Homo sapiens: one gene and its partner. The protein of the gene in region 2 interacts with the protein of the main gene of each other region in a pairwise test. Each region holds a gene or a part of one and is shown on either strand. Other genes may lie near its edges.

What was found.
Region 1: the proteins of ZNF10 (region 2) and TRIM24 interact in a two-hybrid assay, tested with the Homo sapiens proteins (one study listed by BioGRID).

What each region holds. Positions count from the first base shown.
Region 1 is NC_000007.14:138,582,239-138,586,062, reverse strand, and holds part of TRIM24 (transcription intermediary factor 1-alpha), read right to left. Parts: intron 2,214-3,824; coding exon 2,064-2,213; intron 1,322-2,063; coding exon 1,112-1,321; 3' UTR 1-1,111. UniProt on the Homo sapiens protein: Transcriptional coactivator that interacts with numerous nuclear receptors and coactivators and modulates the transcription of target genes.
Region 2 is NC_000012.12:133,143,921-133,147,744, reverse strand, and holds part of ZNF10 (zinc finger protein 10), read right to left. Parts: intron 3,312-3,824; 5' UTR 3,253-3,311; coding exon 3,220-3,252; intron 1-3,219. UniProt on the Homo sapiens protein: May be involved in transcriptional regulation.

The DNA of each region.
Region 1 (3,824 bases), on a different chromosome or scaffold from region 2:
AAGTTTGATGTTCTGACTCTCAAAAGAAAAACATGAGATAGATGCTTCAGGAAAAAAAAAAAATCACTATTAATTCCCCCCAGCTGCCTGCTCCCAAAATCCTACAACACATTTTCATTCCAAATTATAGACAGATGAAAACCACAAAAACGAGTCCCTTTCAGAGGAACTTATATTTAATGCCCAGTAGGGTATATGATGAAGAACCCTCACATCAAATACAGTGCACGCTGCTGTATTTATATTTTGGGTAGTTCCACTAAAAGCTATACTGCAAACAATGAGGCTTGTTGTAAAAGGATCACCTGTACAATTAAACCTCACATAGACACACAGCAAACCCAAATGTATATACTTCCCTCAGTGGAAGAAGTTGAAAATCTAGATCTAGAAATGTATAAAAAATGGCCTTGAAAACCTGCTATACCAAAATACCTCTACAGACAAGATAAAAACAAAAACAAAAATCAAACATTTGTTTTCCGGATTTTTCTTTAATACAGTTGCCATCTTACATGATGTACTATTAAGTGCCTTCTTAATAGCATCTAACCTACCCTTCTGTTGCACCGTTTGGCCTCCTGGGATGGAACTCTTGTTACCACCCATGTTTGTGGAGTACTGTTCTTCAGTACAGTACACCTAATTCATATTGTCAGGCCATATAATTCACGGGTAGTGGTATTAATTTCTAAAGCTGAATTAAAGCACACATCCAAACCACATATATTTTTTACTTTTCAACTTAAAGAGTTCATACAAAGTCTATTTCCTTTCTACAGTAGCTATCACTCCAGACTGTGGTTTAAAAATCCAAGAAGTGGGAAGAATGTCTTTGTTTTCAATGCTTCTTTCTTCCATCCTTTTTCTATCCTCCTTTTTTCCTTCTTTCCATTTTCTTTCTTCTATTCATCTCCTTCTTTCCTTTCTTTCTTAGTGATAAGAGGTTAACAGAAATGGGCTATTAAGGAAATCAAAGTCTAGTAAACGTCCAAAACAGAGATGAGAATAGTCACAAACTCTTCTTTTTGTAGTGATGTTAAATTACTGACAAATGTTTTTTTGAAAACAAAAAAATCTAAAAACCAGCACAAGCTAGTGGTGCTGCATATTATTTAAGCAACTGGCGTTCTTCAATGCTTTTGAGGCGTTTCTTCCGGGGCTGTACAAAGTCATCATCTGAATCATCACTAAATTTATTATCTTCTGATTCATTCCTGAATTCTGGTTTGGGAAACCTTTTTTCTGGATAGAGGTTCTTTAGAAGTTCTTCAAAATAATTTTCAAGTTTTATACCAGCATTGGCTACTTCTGAATCAGGCTGTGGAGTAAAAATAAAAATGAGTAAAAAAAGGACACACTTTTGACTTCTGAGATTATATATATTAATGAGCTGTTTTGAAAAGTGTTCATGCATAGTCATTGAAATAATAGTTTAGGACTAGACAAAGTCTCTGTACAGAAGGCCAGCTAAAATAAAAGATTCAGAAGTGTGGAAAAAAGATAAAAGTAAAAGCCTGGATTATTCTAAAAGAAGGTGGTAATGGTAGGACTATATTGCCAAACACATATCAGTTAGGATTCCATAACCATAGGATCATGAACCAGGTATTTTTAGAACAAATTAAATGTAGTACTATTAGAATGAGTAACAGAGAACAAACCACCAGCAGCAAAAGGTTCTAAGTCTGACTGATGTGTAGATGAACTGACAGATGAGAAATTTTTAAATTAGAGCTATTTGGCCCACATCCTTAATATTTCAAGATCAACATAAAAATAAGAAATACAGGTGGGAATGATAAAGAATATGTCTAGGTCAGAGAAAAACATTTTGTCTTTCAGTTATCAGCTGTAATTTGCATTTCCATCACCATCTAATAAACCTTTGAATATAAATGTGGACAGAGTTATCTGAATTATCTCTTGCATTCCCTGATCTGAAAAGTTGGAAATTTATTCTAACTCAGACATCTTGGTCTCCTATGTTGACAAGGTGTTTAGTAATAAAATGATTTTCACACTGCTGTTCCTTCCTGCCCCCTTCCCTCCCCTAGCCTCACCTCATTGAATTCAGCACAGTTTTGAAAGATCAATCTAAAATCAGCTACAAAATCTTCAGGTTTTGAGTACATGGAATAATCTTCTTGTAGTCTTTTCTTGATGGTTGACAAATCCATTGGATTTTTAATTATTTTGTAATAATCAGGCACCTATTAAAAAAATGAGATGTTATAATACAAATAGCTAAATTCCACCTTGTCCTAAATATATTCTATGAGATGTGCTCTAAAATTCAGAATGTTCTCATTGCTTTTCTCTGTGCTATTTGCCATTAGTAAAGAAACCCATTTAACAGTGTTTACAAGTGCCCACTGCCTTCCACACACACTGGTAAAGGTTTGTGTGACTTTTTCCAAAAGTTTAACCAATTATTATTTTTGAGACAGGGTCTTGCTCTGTCACCCAGGCTGGAGTGCAGTGACACAATCTCGGCTCACTGCAAACTTTGCCTCCTGGGCTTAAGTGATCCTCTCACCTCAGCCTCTCGCGTAGCTGGGGTTACAGGCATGCGCTAACATAGCCGGCTAATTTTTGTATTTTTTGTAGAGATGGGGTTTTGCCATGTTGCCCAGGCTGGTCTCAAACTCCTGGGTTCAAGCAATCTGCCTGCCTCAGCCTCCCAAAATGTTGGGATTACAGGCGTGAGCCACTGCACCCAGCCCCAATTATTTTTAATGAAAAAACTTGTCTTCACATATTTCCTCTTAATCATCTAGATTTTTTTCTTCATTATTAAACAAAAAGCAATTACTAGGAAGAATATCATTTCTAGTAGAATCTGACATGTTTTTGCTGCATGTATTATACAAGAGGAAGAAGGACTTTGAATCTGGGTTTAATCCCCAGCTCTGCTGCTCAGTGTCATGGTCCTGGGTAAGCTACTTAACCTCAGTTTCTTCATATTTCAAATAGGGATAATCCTGCCAAACTCACAGCATTTTGTACAGACTAAATGAGATGATATTTATTAAGAAAAAGGGGGCTACTTTGTCATTGTTGGTATTAATAACGTAACTGTAAGCCAGGATAATAAAAAGTACAATTCAAGGTTACATTTTCAAGTTGGTAATGTTGTTACAAGCCTCTCGACTTCTTTACCCTGCCTCTTTTGGGTACAAAAGACCCTTCTCCCTGGAGGTATTTATTTCCTATATCAAGTTCTCAAAACCTGTTCTTAAGAGAGAAGCTGACTGTATTTACTAAGCTGATTTTCTTCTCAACTTTGTATTAATTTGAGATTTATCAAACTGTAGAACAAATGAAAAAAAATTTTTTTTTTGGGACAGAGTTTTGCTCTTGTTGCCCAGGCTGGAGAGCAATGGCGCAATCTCGGCTCACTGCAACCTCCGCCTCCGGGGTTCAGACATTAGAAGAATACTCTTTTGGGGTACCAGGCCCTTTCCAGCACTCTAAAATTATGCGTTAAAGTCACATCAAACTTTTTTTTTTTTTTTTTTGAGACGGAGTCTTGCTCTTTTGCCCAGGCTGGAGTGCAGTGGCATGATCTCGGCTCACTGCAAGCTCCGCCTCCCAGGTTCACGCCACTCTCCTGCCTCAGCCTCCCGAGTAGCTGGGACTACAGGCGCCTGCCACCACACCTGGCTAATTTTTTGTATTTTTAGTAGAGACGGGGTTTCACCGTGTTAGCCAGGATGGTCTCTATCTCCTGACCTCGTGATCCGCCCGCCTCGGCCTCCCAAAGTGCTGGGATTATAGGCGTGAGCCACCGCGCCCGGCCACAGTCACATCAAACTTTCAAT
Region 2 (3,824 bases):
ACTCGGGAGGCTAAGGCAGGAGAATTGCTTGAATCCGGGAGAAGGCAAACGTTGCAGTGAGCTGATATCGTGCCACTGCACTCCAGCCTGGGCTACAGAGCAAGACTCCGTCTCCCAAAAAAAAAAAAAAAAAAAACTCAGAAAACAGACTAGTTTTCTTACTGAGCAAAAGACTAAAATAAACATTTCACCAAAGAAGAATATAGGTAGTTGGTAATAAATAAGCAAATGATGCTTAATATCATTATTTATTAGGGAAATGAAAGTTAAAATGACAGTGAGATACCTCTAAGACACTTATTAGAAAGGGTACTTTTAAAATGTGTGATACCAAGTGCTGGTGAGGATGCGGAATAACTGCCACTCCCACACATTACTGTGAGAATGCAAAAATGCTACAACCACTTTGGAAAATTTGCATATTTTTCATAAAGTTAAACGTACTCTTGGCACACACCTATCATTCTCTTGGCTAAATACCTGAGTATGAAAATTTATGTCCACACAAAAACCTGTATGCAAATGTATAAACCTGAGAAAGGGCTTTATTTATAATTGGCAAAAACTGGAAGAAACTCAAATGTCCCTCAACAGGAAATGCATAAACAAAACGTGGTACAGCCACACAGTGTAAATCTACTCAGTAATAAAAAGGAACATCCTACTGACTCATGCAACAACAGATGAACCTCCGATACATTATGCTATATGAAAGGAGCTAGAGGCTTCATACTATGAGATTCCATTTATGTGACCTTCTGGAAAAGGTAAAAATCAATAGATCAGTGGTTGCAAGGGGCTGGAGGGGGAGTTAGCATGGACTATATACACAGGGGCAGCACACAGGGAATTCTAGGATCATGGGTTTGCCCTGTATCTTGGTGTTTTGTTTTTTTTTTGAGATGGAGTTTCGCTCTTTCACCTAGGGTAGAGTGAAGTGGCACAATCTCGGCTCAGTGCAACCTCTGTTCCCTGAGTTCAAGCAATTCTCCTGCCTCAGCCTCCCAGGTACCTGAGTTTATAGGCGCCCGCCACTGTGCCCAGCTAATTTTTGTATTTTTAGTAGAGACGGGGTTCCACCATGTTGGCCAGGCTGGTCTCGAACTCCTGACCTCAAGTGATCCACCCGCCTCCGCCTCCCAAAGTGTTGGGATTACAGGCATGAGCCACAGTGCCCAGCCTGCTCTGTATCTTGAATGAAGTGGGGGCTACACAACTATATGCATCTGTCAAAAATCACAGAACTGTAAATCCAAAGTGGAAAACGTTACTGTATGTAAAAAAAAAATTTTAAATGGAATGTCCTATGAGATCTGTATGCTGGATATCTTCTCTCCTTCCCTCCAGGTTTCCTCTCCACCCTACTCTGTTCCCCAGGGAGGGTGAGCTGTGTGGATTATACCAAAGGTTTCTCTTGCCCTCTGCCTTTCTGATTTATTTCACCAATGGAGATCACCAGCTGGATATGGCAAGAAAGTTGCCCCAGTGCAGTGGTGGTGACGTAATGGAGGTACCTTGACAGATGGGAACAGCCTCTGTGAACTGCAAGTCTGGTTTCCAGAACCTGTTCTCATCCCTTCAGGCCTAATGGTGATGACACTCTGCTCCCACCTCATTCTCGTATTACTGAAGTTCAGTGTGCCTGCTACTTTCCACTAGTCCTTGACTCACTCATTGCTGCTCAGTTTCTAAGAAGCCTGCCCAGTTTTAACTTCAGTGGCTATCTGATTTCTGGCCTGGTGCTTTTAGCATTCCTATAAGTAATACATTGCACTTTTACTGTGAACACAGAGACAAAGCATATCATGGGGACACCACTGAAAGGTGCATGACATGTTAGCCAAGAACCGGATTTGAAATCAGGCGAACCTGTGGTCAAATCTGTACATCTTAAATTTTGTGTTTTTTTTGTTTTTTTCTTTTTGTGGGGGTGGGGGGGTGGGACAGAGTTTTGCTCTGACACGCGGGCTGGAGTGCAGTGGCATGATCTTGGCTCACTGCAACCTCCGCCTCCCGGGTTCAAGCAATTTTCCTGCCTCAGCCTCCGGAGTAGCTAGGACTATGCCACCACGCCTGGCTTGCTTATTTTTGTATTTTCAGTAGAGACAGGGTCTTACCATGTTGGCCGTGCTGTTCTCAAACTCCTGACCTCGGTGATCTGCGCACCTCAGCCTCCCAAAGTGCTGGGATTATAGGTATGAGCCACCGCACCTGGCCTATATACCTTAAATTTTGGATTGGATAATGCTTATTTAACTTCACCATGAGTCAGTTCTCTTAGCTGTAAAATACCGTCTGTCTCATAGTATTATACACACTAACACAACAGTACAATACCGTGTTAAAGAAGACAGAGATGAGAAGTGCCATCTGCTGCAGTCCAGCATGTACAGACATGCCAAGAAGGTATATAGCCTAAGTATGCTTTCATTCCTCCTAATACTTTTGAAATATCTTGTGTGCTTCTTGTTCTTTGCTGGAAGTAAGCATTATCCTGAATTGTGTTGTTTATTATTTTCAAAATGCCCTTACCTCATATGAATATAATTGTAAACGAATAACTGGTTGGCCGGGCGGGGTAGCTCACACCTGTAATGCAGTGCTTTGGGAGGCCGAGGCAGGCGGATCACCTGAGGTCAGGATATTGAGACTGGCTAACACAGTGAAACCCCGTCTCTACTAAAAATACAAAAATTTAGCCAGGCATAGTGGCACACGCCTGTAGTCCCAGCTACTTGGGAGGCTGAGGCAGAAGAATCACTTGAACCTGGGAGGTGGAGGTTGCAGTGAGCTGAGATCGCGCCACTGGACTCTAGCCTGGGTGACAGAGCAAGACTCCGTCTAAACAACAACAAAAAAAGAATAACTGTTTGTAAATACCTGTTTTTGAATTTTTTGGTCAGCATGAGTTGATCTTTTTCTTGTATTAGCCTCCAGTCCATTTTAAATGTAACACTAATCTCATTCCATTCTGTCATATTTTCCACTACTATTCTACTATTTTTATTTTGTATATATTTGAAAATTTCTATAATAAAAGAAGAGAGGGAAAGACCAAAGCCCACAGTGATCTGTCTTCTTCCTAACTCACCTGGAAACAAAACAAAAACCTAATTCTAGTCTGCTGGAGAAGAAGATATAATTTCTGAAGATCTTTGGCAAAGGAACTAAAGCAAAAAGGAATTCCCAGTTGGAAACTGGGAAGAAAGCCCAGCTTACCCGGGACCAGGCAGTTAGTGACTTAGCATCCATGCCCTCCTTGTTCTTGATGATACTTCCTTGAGTGACAGCAGAGTGCTGAGGAGACAAAGCTGGGAAAAAGAAAGAAACATAAGTTAAGTTTGCTATGACTGGGAGGCTCCCTAAATTGTCAGTCTAAACTTCTTCATACCAGCTGGGTATGACACAAACACCCACTATACAGAGGAACATCAGAGATATTCTATAAGCAAATCTACAGTGCCCGAAGCTCCCCAAGATTAGGAAGAGAAGAGCTACATAAATTGCATTTTTACCCCCTTAATCTCTGGAGTTCCACACCACATTTGAAGATTTAAAACTGAATGATCCTACCTACCATTACAAATTTTTTTTTTGCGGAAAAAAATACCAAACCTGACCTAATCAAATAGTCTCACTTTACAGATTAAAAAAACAAGTGTTGTCTCCAGCTGGTCACAGAACGGAAGTCAGAGATAGAAGCCCAAGAAAAATGTGACGCACCATTACTGGCTTGAAGATGGAATGCAGTGTGAGGAACATGGCAGGCTCCAGCAGCAAAGAGCAGCACCAGCTGAAAGCCAGCTAGGAAGCAGGGACCTCAG